3 linked regions of the Homo sapiens genome follow. The protein of the gene in region 3 interacts with the protein of the main gene of each other region in a biochemical or structural test. Each region holds a gene or a part of one and is shown on either strand. Other genes may lie near its edges.

The links. Proteins that work in one complex are often made in the same cells at the same time.
Region 1: the proteins of PLEKHO1 (region 3) and AKT2 form a complex in vitro, tested with the Homo sapiens proteins (one study listed by BioGRID).
Region 2: the proteins of PLEKHO1 (region 3) and SMAD5 form a complex in vitro, tested with the Homo sapiens proteins (one study listed by BioGRID).

Annotation. Positions count from the first base shown.
Region 1 is NC_000019.10:40,275,346-40,278,845, forward strand, and holds part of AKT2 (RAC-beta serine/threonine-protein kinase), read right to left. Parts: intron 1-3,500. UniProt on the Homo sapiens protein: Serine/threonine kinase closely related to AKT1 and AKT3. All 3 enzymes, AKT1, AKT2 and AKT3, are collectively known as AKT kinase.
Region 2 is NC_000005.10:136,135,845-136,139,344, reverse strand, and holds part of SMAD5 (mothers against decapentaplegic homolog 5), read right to left. Parts: intron 1-3,500. UniProt on the Homo sapiens protein: Transcriptional regulator that plays a role in various cellular processes including embryonic development, cell differentiation, angiogenesis and tissue homeostasis.
Region 3 is NC_000001.11:150,148,524-150,152,715, reverse strand, and holds the start of PLEKHO1 (pleckstrin homology domain-containing family O member 1), read right to left. Parts: upstream 2,801-4,192; 5' UTR 2,459-2,800; coding exon 2,429-2,458; intron 2,120-2,428; exon of another isoform or gene 1,805-2,119; coding exon 1,658-1,804; intron 1-1,657. UniProt on the Homo sapiens protein: Plays a role in the regulation of the actin cytoskeleton through its interactions with actin capping protein (CP).

The DNA of each region.
Region 1 (3,500 bases), on a different chromosome or scaffold from region 3:
CTCCCTGGGAGCTCCAGGGCAGGGCCCAGTGGCAAAAGGAGAAACCAGTGGGTCTGCATCAAGGCTAATACTCAGTGAGCACTCACAAAGCACCAGGCATGGATTAATGTTCATCTTCACAGCCAGCCTGTGTTACTATCCCCGTTCCTCACATGGGAAAACTGAGGCCCAGGGAGAGAGCCACATGCACACAGTCACAGCGAGTAGGTGCAGGAGAGGGACCGCAACCAGAGCAGAACTAGCCCACAGACCTTTCCATAACGACAGAAATGTGGTTACTAAATGTTTGAATGATGGCTAGTGCAACTAAAGAACTGACTTTTTACTTTTCTTTAATTGTAATTAATTAAAACTTAAAAAGCCATATGTGAGTCCGGGCACGATGACTCACGCCTGTAATCCCAGCACTTTGGGAGGCTGGGGGGGGGGGGGGTGGGCGGGGGGCGATCACAAGGTCAGGAGTTCAAGACCAGCCTGGCCAAGATGGTGAAACCCTGTCTCTACTAAAAATACAAAAATTAGCCAGGCGTGGTGGTAGGCGCCTGTAATCCCAGCTACTCGGGAGGCTGAGGCAGAGAATCGCTTGAACCCGGGAGGCGGCGGTTGTAGTGAGACAAGATCACACCACTGCACTCCAGCCTGGGTGACAGAGCAAGACTCCGTCTCAAAAAAAAAAAAAAAAGTCCATACATGGCTAGTAGCTACCATTCTGGAGTGCAATTCTATAGAATTCCTGCTAATTAAGCACCGGGAGCTTAAAGGCAGGAGGCAGGGATGTGACTCTCACAGGCCCAAGAGGAGCCAGATCATCCCAGTGCGGCTGGAAGCTCCCATGCTATACCCCATCTCTCCCGCACCCCAACGCAGCTTACCTGGGGAATTGGAGCAGGACTCAGGCCCAAACTCACACCTCTAGTCAACTCAAATCCTGACTCTACCACTTCCAGGCTACACAGGTCACTTCTCTGAACCTCAGCTTCCGCATCTGTAAAATGGAATCTTTTTTTTTTTTTTTTTTTTTTTTTTTTTTTTTTTTTTTGAGACAGAGTCTCACTCTGTCGCCAGGCTGGAGTGCAGTAGTGCGATCTTGGCTCACTGCAACCTCTGCTTCCCAGGTTCAAGCAATTCTCCTGTCTCAACCTCCCGAATAGCTAGGATTATAGGCACCCACCACCACACCTGGCTAATTTTTGTATTTTTAGTACAGACAGGGTTTCACCATCTTGGCCAGGCTGGTACTGAACTCCTGACCTCGTGATCCACCCTCCTCGGCCTCCCAAAGTGCTGGGATTACAGGTGTGAACCACCGTGCCCAGCCTGTAGAATGGAATCTTAACACCAATCTGCCCAAGCACATGTTTATGTTATCTCAAAAGATAATTTTTGCAGGCCAGGTGCAGTGATTCACGCCTGTAATCCCAGCACTTTGGGAGGCTGAGGGATGTGGATCACTGGAGCCCAAAAGTTCAAGATCAGCCTGAGCAAAATAGGGAGACTCCCATCTCTACTGAAAATTGTTTTAAAAAAATTAGCCAGGTATGATGGTGCATGCCTGTAGTCCCAGCTACTCAGAAGGCTGAGGTGGGAGGACCACTTGAGCCAGTGAGGTCAAGGCTGCAATCAGCCATGATGGTGCCACTGCATTCCAGCCTGGGTGACAGAGCCAGACCCTGTCTCAAAAAAATAATGAAAAATTTAAAAAGATGATTTTTCTGATAACCATGGGTTGTCCTGGGGACCCAATGAGATGGCTTCACACACAGCTGGGGACAGGGCCAGTGCTTGAAAAATAGGTGGCAATTACATAAAGGACTCTGACATCAGGGGCCGTCCTGAGCCTGTCAGAGCCATGCAGTGGCAGCTAATGTTACTGCTGTCACTACTTGGTTCTAAAGGAATCATCCCAATAATTTCCAACATGCCCCTACTAACTTTTTGAAAATATCATCTAAATGAAAACACACAGCTAAAAAGAGTCAATGCCCTGCAGACACCTCCTCCCACCCGCCAAGGCCTTCGGACACCAGTTTGAGAAGCTGGGCTCTAGGGCGCCCTGTCTCCAAAGCAGAATATGGTCTGCTTTCTCCATCCCTGGCTGCCACCTGAATCCAGCCAGCTCTCTCCCACACAGGTCCCTCCCCACCCACCTGTGTCCCTTCTCTTTGGGGATAAAGCCCTGGATCCCCATCATAGCCCAGGCCCTGAGCCCTGCCACCCTGCTCTCTCCCCCTCACCCACTCCCCCGGCTCCAGCTACATGGGCCTGCTGTTCCACCAGCACATCCAGATATCGCCTTCCTTGCGGCCTTTACCTGGCTGCACCCCGTCCAGCCCACTTCCTCGGGCTCTCACATCACAGGGGCTCCTCAGCAGCCTTCCCAAGCCCCTCTCCCACCCAGTCCAGCTAGATCTCTGTTCCCTCCTTCAGCCACACCAAGCACTCACAGGCCAATGCAACCTCTCTGCCACCTCCGATCGCATCCAGAACTACACGTGGCACATAGAAGTGATTCAATCAATATTTGGAGACAGATGGAACACACAAATGACCAAGAACAGCCAAAGGCTGGCTCCTGAGGCTGTTCAGCAATCAGGCCCCTAGGGCAGTGGGGAGGGGGTGCCTCCCATCCTCATCTCTTCCCCCTGGGCCCCCCTTGGGAGGGGCCAAGGTCATGGTATTGGGGGTGGAGAGAAGCAGCCACACCCCACATCCCAAGCAGGCATGGAATGGAGTCATTTCTGGATTACTGAGGCCTACTTTGTGCCAGCTCTGTCTAGGAGAAGAGAAAGCAGAAAAGAAATCATGATGACAACAGTGACAACTCCAGTCATAGCAGGCAGGGCAAGAAGATGAGGCTGTCTTCAAAAGGCAGCTTCGCCGACAGAGCAGGGTTCAACCATCATGCCTATTACTGACTTCCAGCAAATCCAATAACCTCTCTATGCCCGTTTCCTCCCCTGTACAACGGGGACGATCGGGACAGCGAGCTGCCAGGCTGTGGTGAGGATGAGTGAGAGCAGACACCTTAAGCTCTGCAGCAGTGCCCAGCACTGAGAGGCGAACTACTCACGAGAATGACCCCAATATTCTATGTGGCTTCCTGGGCCTCAGTTTCCTATCTACGAGATGGGAGTGCTAACACTGCCCACCTCCCAGGCTGCTGTGCAGGTTTGTAGAGCTAATATGCAGCGTCTGGTTGGGCAGGAGTACAGTGGTGGGAGTGATTCACATTCCTGTCTGGAGCCCTCCCATCAGCTAACAGGCCCTACCACTCTCTCCCAAGGACCAACAACGAGCCTGTGCCCACTGCCCTGCAGAGCCCCTTCTGTGCTCTCAGGTGCCCTCAGTCCTGTCTGGCAATCACCAGGAGTAGCATCAGCCCAAATTCATCCCGCCGCCTCCTCAGGAGGCCTGTGCTTTCCAACGCAGCAGCTCCGTGCATCCTCCCCACCGCCCCACTCAGCAGGAAGGTTCCCGTTTACAGCTGAGCAAAATGCACC
Region 2 (3,500 bases), on a different chromosome or scaffold from region 3:
TTGCTAAGCTTCACAAAGCTTCTATTTCAAATGAATTCATGTTGAATCAATAACCCAAAGGTCCTGTTCTTACCTAAGGTTATGGAAGTACTACATCCTGACCAACTTTCATAATAAACACACACACAAACTGACTTCAATACCCACCCCGAGACACACATACATACAGAAAAACATACAGAAAGACACACACACACACACACACACACACACACAGAGCTCACAGCTAGATTTCTAAAGTGAATTCACAGAAACAACTCTTTCACTTTGTGCTCCAACATCTCTATGACTGCTGCAATCTGAAATAAAAAGGCAAGCAAACCAATCCCCACATTTTCCTCAACACTATTGGCCAAAACAAAATCTCCTGAGCACATCATCCCATGAAAATAAATGCCCATAATGGGTCACAACCCATTGTATTCTAATTCAAACCTGTACAAAATAATTGGACATGGGGTTTTTAAATCAACAAATTCCTTAGAACCATCCCTCAAAATTCAGATTCACTAAGCTTGGCAGAAGGGCCTTACTGCCCACATTTTTAACAAGAATCTCGGACCATGCAGGAGGCTTGGGAACCAAGGTGCTCAGGATCTCCTGCAATGGAAGAAAGACACTTGCATACATACAACCTAAGGGTAACTTTTGGGGGCAGGGGGGATGTGGGGGTAAAGCTTTAAAAATCTCTTACCCTTGTGGTTCTCATTATCAATAGTAGTCACCAAGTGTCAGCAAGTAGACAACCACCACCACCACTGTCAAACCATCCCTAGATCCATGTATACAACTGCTATCAACTTTGTAAGCCACATTCACAACTGCACGCAGAGAGGAGAAGGAAACCAAAAGCATGTTTGCTCACAGCTCTTCTAGATTCAGAAATCCTATTCTTTATAAGAACATCTACAAGAAAGACAGGATACAATTACATGGGCGCCAAAATTATTTTCACAGAGAAACATTTAAATCACCACTTTCCTCAACTGTGGCTCCCGATTTCCAAAGACATAAGAAGTTCTCATAGCAGATTTCAAAGCCCTTCAGGAGCTGAACTCATGATTCCCAACACTTCTCACTGCATAATCTTCTTGCCTATTCTGTGCCCACAGAATTCTCTACTTTATTATCTCCCACAGCCAGACTTTTGTTTCCCAGTTTTTAATCACTCTTTAAGCTTCACCTGCTCCTCTAAGTCCCCTAATTAAACAGAGCCTGATCTAAATGTATCACTCACCCCCACAGAGCCTGCAAGATTTCCTACATTGCTACCAGATGTGTTTGAGTATGCTTGTACAGGCGTGTAGGCACAGGAACAGACACAGAGCTGGTCAATCTTTGTAGTGATTCCTTTAAATTATAAAATCATCAAGTGCAGATACCAAATCATGACTGTAAAATGTGTCTCTGGAGCACAAAGAGCTAACCTGTGTACACGACATATATTACAGTGCATTATGAAGATGTTCTCCAGAGAACTCATGTGCACCCAGAGTTCAAGTTCCCTGCTTAGTAGAAAAGGGAATAAACATGACTCTGGGTAACTTTTCAGCTCTAGTGTCATCATTCACTTAATTTACACTTTCATCTCCAAAGAATGAGAAATGGTCAATGAGTAAAGTAGACAGAAGATGTGACTAAGAAGAAAACAGAAGAAGACTGGCTTTTAAATATTTTTGCAGAACCCCCCTCTTCCTGGGAACACACAAACCAGAATAACTAGAACTCAAGTTGTACAGCCTACCAGATAGGATACTAGGCAGATCCTAACACATCATGAAAACAAACCTGAACAAAACAAAACTTGCCTTGAAAGCACCAGCCATATTCTGAGATCATAGTTAAATTTGAAAGATGTAAGCCTCCTCCCAAGACTCCAGTTGCTATGCTCAGAGAAAAAGTGGGAATGGGACACTAGTTTTTTTCTATTATTTTCGGTATAACAAAACAACATATATGGATATCAAAAGAAAAAATCCTGCTAAAATCTTAACAGGTCAAATCACTTTCAAACTTCTATATTGTACCAGTCTATAAAGTACATATATGCTATAGGAAGAGATGCGGGGGGGGGTCCCAAAAAATTCAAGAGCAAAACCTAGTTACAAAATGTTATGTTAATAACTAGCTTCCAAAAGTGAATTACAATTATAGTATTGCACACACAGAACTGACTTAATAAAGAACTCTTTCTTGCAAAATATCATCTCAACCAAGGTAGGATACAGTAAAAGGAGGAAGAAAAGTCACTGAAAACACCACTCTACTAGAACTGGGCCAAAAACATCCCCCCTAGCTGCCCAAGGCAAAAAAAAAAAAAAAAAAAATCAAAACTAAATAAAGAGCCCAGCCAGGCACGGTGGCTCACACCTGTAATCCCAGCACTTTGGGAGGCCATAGCGGGCAGATCACTTGAGGTCAGAAGTTCGAGACCAGCCTGGCCAACGAGGTGAAACTCCATCTCTATTAAAAATTCAAAAAATGAGCTGGACGTGGTGGTGGGTGCCTGTAATCCCAGCTACTCAGGAGGCTGAGGCAGGAGAATCGCTTGAAGCCGGGAGGCAGAATTGCAGTGAGTCAAGATCGCGTCACTGAACCCCAGCCTGGGCGACAGAGAGAGACACTCTCAAATAAATAGCCCAGAACTAGCTGATTATTTATGAAAAACCTAAGAACTCTGTAATTACCCCATCTTTCCAGGTTGGAAAACAACAAAGCTGTTAGAATATTAAGGTGGCCTATGAGATTAGTCCTAACAACAATCTAGTTTTTAACAATTCTTCCAAAAGAGTTCTAAATCTTTACCTCCCATTTAGTAAACAAACTTCTCAGATTCAGACTTCTGATTAGAGGTAAAGGGTATGTGACAACACCAATGAACTGCAAATTCCAATGACTATTATTCTATTAACTTCAGAAGTGGAAAAACAAGGTATGTTAAGAGTTCAAGACCAGCCTGGCGAACATGGTGAAACACCGTCTCTACTAAAAATACAAAAATTAGCCGGGTATGGTGGTGGGTGCCTGTAATCCCAGCTACTTGGGAGGCTGAGGCAGGAGAATTGCTTCAACCCGGGAGGCGGAGGTTGCAGTGAGCCAAGATTGCGCCACTGGACTCCAGATTGGGCGACAGAGCTAGAACCCAGTGGCGGGGGGATGCCATGGGTCAGCTTCCAAGGGTCCTTCATCATCTGTTTTGATGGGAAAGCACCCTATATTGCATCCCAGCTTCCTTGGGCCTTTTCTTTTCTCTAGAATATTCTTTTCTCTAGAATATCCAGGTATTCTTTTCTCTAGAATATCCAGACTGGTGGAGACAAGAATCATTCCTCAGGCTACTAGTATCCCTTATAAAAGGGAATCTTACTCAATGTCTTTGACCCTATGAGAAGACGGGCAAATCATAGGCTATAAGCTGCTTGTAACATTTGAAGAAATAAACTATTTGCCTTCTTTGTGGTTAGTGTACAGAGAGACAGAGAGACAGACAGACAGATACA
Region 3 (4,192 bases):
TTGTTTTTTTTTTTTTTTTTTTTTTTTAATTTAGAAAGCCAGAAAATTGTGGAGAAAACTTTCTGGAGGATTTGTGATTGGGCAGAGGTAACTCTTAAAAATAAATCCTCCTGGCCAGGCACGGTTGGCTCACACCTGTAATCCCAGCACTTTGGGAGGCTGAGGCGGGTGGTTCACTTGAGGCCAGGAGTTTTGAGAGCAGCCTGGTCAACAACGCGAAACACTGTCTCTACAAAAAATACAAAAACTAGCCAGACATGGTGGCACCCACCTGTAGTCCCAGCTACTCCAAGGATGAGGTGGGAGGATCACTTGAGCCTGGGAGGTGGAAGCTGAAGTGAGCTGTGATTGAGCCACTGCATTCCTGCCTGGATGACAGACCAAGAAAAGTGCCCTCACCTCACTCCTAAGACTTTCCATCACCAACTTGCTAGTTTTGTGTAAACAGCTAGGTTTCAATACCCTTAAGAGGGATCTCTTTGGCTGTGGCACAGCTTAGTTCTTCCCTAGATGCCTCAGTAGATGTTCTTTTAGATGAGTACTTTGTCTCAGGGTGTGTGTGTGTATGTTTCAATACCATAAAAGGTTTTATTTACCTAAATATAATCTACTGAATAAGGATGTCTACTGCAGAAAGCAGAAGAGGTTAGAACTCAGGGAGGACTTCCCAGTTAGCCCTGGGTGAGGGAACACAGAATACCTCCCGTGAGGGCGGGAGGAAGGGCCACTCTAACCGGTACACAGGACAGTCTTCCAGGCTATACTGACTGCCTTTGGACAGTCACAGAGGCAGGGAATGGAATGACTTCTAACCACTGTAGGGGCAATTCTGATTTCTCCACATTAGTACACGTTATTGATCCCAAGACTTAGGGAAAAAAGGGAGATGGGTCTGGATTCAATTATCATAGCTCAGGTCTTGACACAGTGTAGACTGTGGTTTTCATGGTTAACTACACAGCCAAAGCTATCCAAAGACATACAGGGGTTCTTAACTCCATTTCTCTCCCTTCTGATACAAATGGAGGGGTGGGCAGGAAGTGGGTAGAAAATGGGTTCCTTGCCTTTTTTAAATGGGGTGGGGGTGGGGAACAGAGAGCATACTGGTTAGGGACACTGGCTTCAACGAAAATAACTGCCACTCACACACCCGAGGTCACAGGGGCCTGACGGCGGGGTGCGTGTTTTCTGTGATTCAGGGCGGATGCGCCACGGACAGGACCTGTGCACGCTCCTGCCACAGACAGGAAAGGGGAGGCTGGCTGGGTTAAGGTGGGGGGACAGGAAGGGGTGGCGAATAGGCTAAACTGTTTCAGCAGAAATAGAAAAGAAATCCTATATGCAGGAGGCCAGGTTAGGGTGGGAGGCAGCAAGGGACACTTAGAACTTCTGGGGCATCTTGGGAGGGGCTTATCGTTGTTAGAAAGGTATTTGCAAACAAAAAAACACTGAGTAAGCGGCCAACTCAACTTCTAATTCTCACTCTGGTCTTCTCATTAAAGGGTGGCCTTTCTCTGCAGATGAGATGGGGGTAGAGAGGAGACCACTGAACTTGCCTTTGGAACAAAACGGGGGTGGAGTAAGCTAGGCGAGCCCTTGGGGAGTGACAAAGTGGGGGCTATGAGAAAACGGAGAGTTAGAGGCAAGAGGCACCCACCTCCTTCTCAGAGATGTAGAGCTGGTCCCCTTTCAGCACCACATAGCGGTTTTTCCAAATCTCCCTGAAAATCCCTTTCCCGCAGAATTTCCGGACCCAGCCGACCTTCTCGGGCGGTGCAGGCTGCTGGTTTCCATCCTGAGGTCCCTGCCCCAGGACAAGATGAGAAGCGGGCGGTTAGGAGATTCCAGCCGGCGCTTCCTCTCCGTCCGTCTCTCACGACCGCCTCGGCGGCCCAGTCTCCTCCGAAGGCTGCGGCCGGGGGGCGGGGGGCCGCCCCAGGTTCGCTCCCACTTCGGAAAGGTTTTCACTCCGAGGAACTCCCCCCGCTCCCCTCCCCCGCTCCCGAATAAACAACCGGGGCTGCAAGTGGCAGGGGCGCCGGCCGGGCGCGGAGAGGCTCCCAGGTTCCCTCCAGGCCCTGCGCCCCCGCCGCCCCGTCCTCGCCGCGCGGGGACTAACGGCGTTTCTCTGGTTTTCTCTCCCATTGTCTCCTCGCCACGGCGGAGCGCGAGGCAAACGCTCGCCCGGCGCCCGGGGGCGGGGGAGGTGCGGGTCGTGGGGAAACTCAGCCAAGTTGAAGCCCCCCGAGGCGAGTAAACAAACAAAAGCCCCCGCGGGCGCCTGGCGGGGCCGAGGCCGAGGGGACCGGGCCGCCGGGGCGGGGGCGCGGCCGGGCCGTGGGTCTCCCAGGCCGCCGCGGCGCCGACGGAGCGGGGGTCGTCAGAGCGCGGAGGCGGCGGCGGCCGCAGGGCGGGCAAGCGCACTCACCCGCTTGGCGGAATTGTTCTTCTTCATCATTCCCAGCGGGCGCGGGCGCGGGGCGGCGAGCCGAGGGGCGGCCCCGCGTCGGGGCCTCGGCGGCACCGCGGGGGCTCCTTCCCCGCGGGAGGGCGTCGGAGCTGCCCCGGCGCCGCCGCTCCTCCCTCGCGCCCTCCCGCTCCCGGACTCTCCCCTTCTTTGTAGCTCCGGTTTCACTCAAGGCCGGCCTCCCTCGCATTCGCACTCGCACACACACGCACGCCCGCTCCCCGCCCCTTGGCGCCCTCCATCCCGGCGCCCACGCGGCCCGGGTCCCCGAGCGCACCCCCGCCACCCGCCCGCCCGGCCCAGCGCGGCCGCTCCCCCGGCCCGGTGCGCTGTGGGCGGCCCAGTCCGCACCCCGCAGCTCCATCCGCGGGCCGCTGACGTTGCGAGTTCAGAATAAAGGGCGAATCGCGGAGCCGCAGCTCGGGCGCTCCCCCCGCCCCCCCGCCTTTGTTTCTGACTCACGGAGGGGGAAGAAGGCGGCTTCGAAGCGGCTGGAGACCGCTCCCCAGGGGGCAGGGACCCTCGCTCCGGCGGCGGCTCGGGCGACACGCGGAGCCCGAGAGACCCGGCCGCCGGCCGCCCCGGGGCCCAGTGGGCGGGCGCGGTGGATAATGGAGAGACGTGCGGATTCGTGAAGACTGGAGATCGCCAGCCTCTACAGCATCGCCTTACCCGACCAAAAACAAAAACGAGAGCGGGAACCGGGAGGGCGCGCCACCCACAACCCGCATCAGGAATTCACGCTCCTAGGTGCTAGGGTGGCCTGGGCAGGTCAGATGCTGGGGGAAAGTTTTATGCTCCGGAGGGGATCGACGTGTTGGGGGATGGGGTGGGACAGAAGTTGCTATTAATACACGTTTCTTCCAGCGTACAATGCCTCAGGCCTTATTGTAGCTTCAGGAGAATAATCCTAAGGATGAGGCGGATTTTATGATCTCCATCTCACAGGGAGAAAACGGAGACTCAGAATAGCTGAGGGATTTGCAGACACAGTGTCGATGCTGGCTTTTCAGACACAGTGTCAATGCTGGCAGGAATAGAACTCTGTCTCCAAACCATTATCCTTTCTACCAAGTGGCTTTCAATATAAGTTCCAGGTGAGGCTTAAACTTCCTGCCACCTGGGTATCTTTTCCCGCTATACTGATAGGTAAAAACCCCACCCTCTCTACAGCGCTGGAGCCCAGTGGAGGGAAGGGCTGAACGCCCAGAGAATGCCCTGACTAGAGAAGCCTCTGCTGATCCCTCCTACAGCAGATCTGCCTCAGAGCCTCCAGGACACATCTTAGTAACTTCATGTCTTTTTAATATATATACGTGTGATGGAAAAGGGGAGTGAGAAACCCCGCGCTTGGGTACTGGTTTCATCACCACTCTGGGCTTTGGTCAAGTCACTGAATTTCTTTAGGCCCGCGTCCCTCCACGTATTAAGTGGTGAGGGATGAACTGCCATTTTTATCAACAAGGAAAGCTAGGGGAAGATATGAGATGACCTCTGAGAGTCCTTTGAAGATATGTGTTGTCTTCCAGGGCTAATTTTGAAATCATAATAAGCTAATAAACACATTGCCTGGCATATGGCAAGCATGCAGTAACCACAAAATGAATAAAAATCCCTGGCACTGAGGAGCAGGGAAAAGGAAAAATCATTTTTCCAGAGATGTCTCAAGATAAAAGTGTTGGCTAGATTTGTGGTTTGAATAGTGGAGGCTCTTTTGACTTTTTC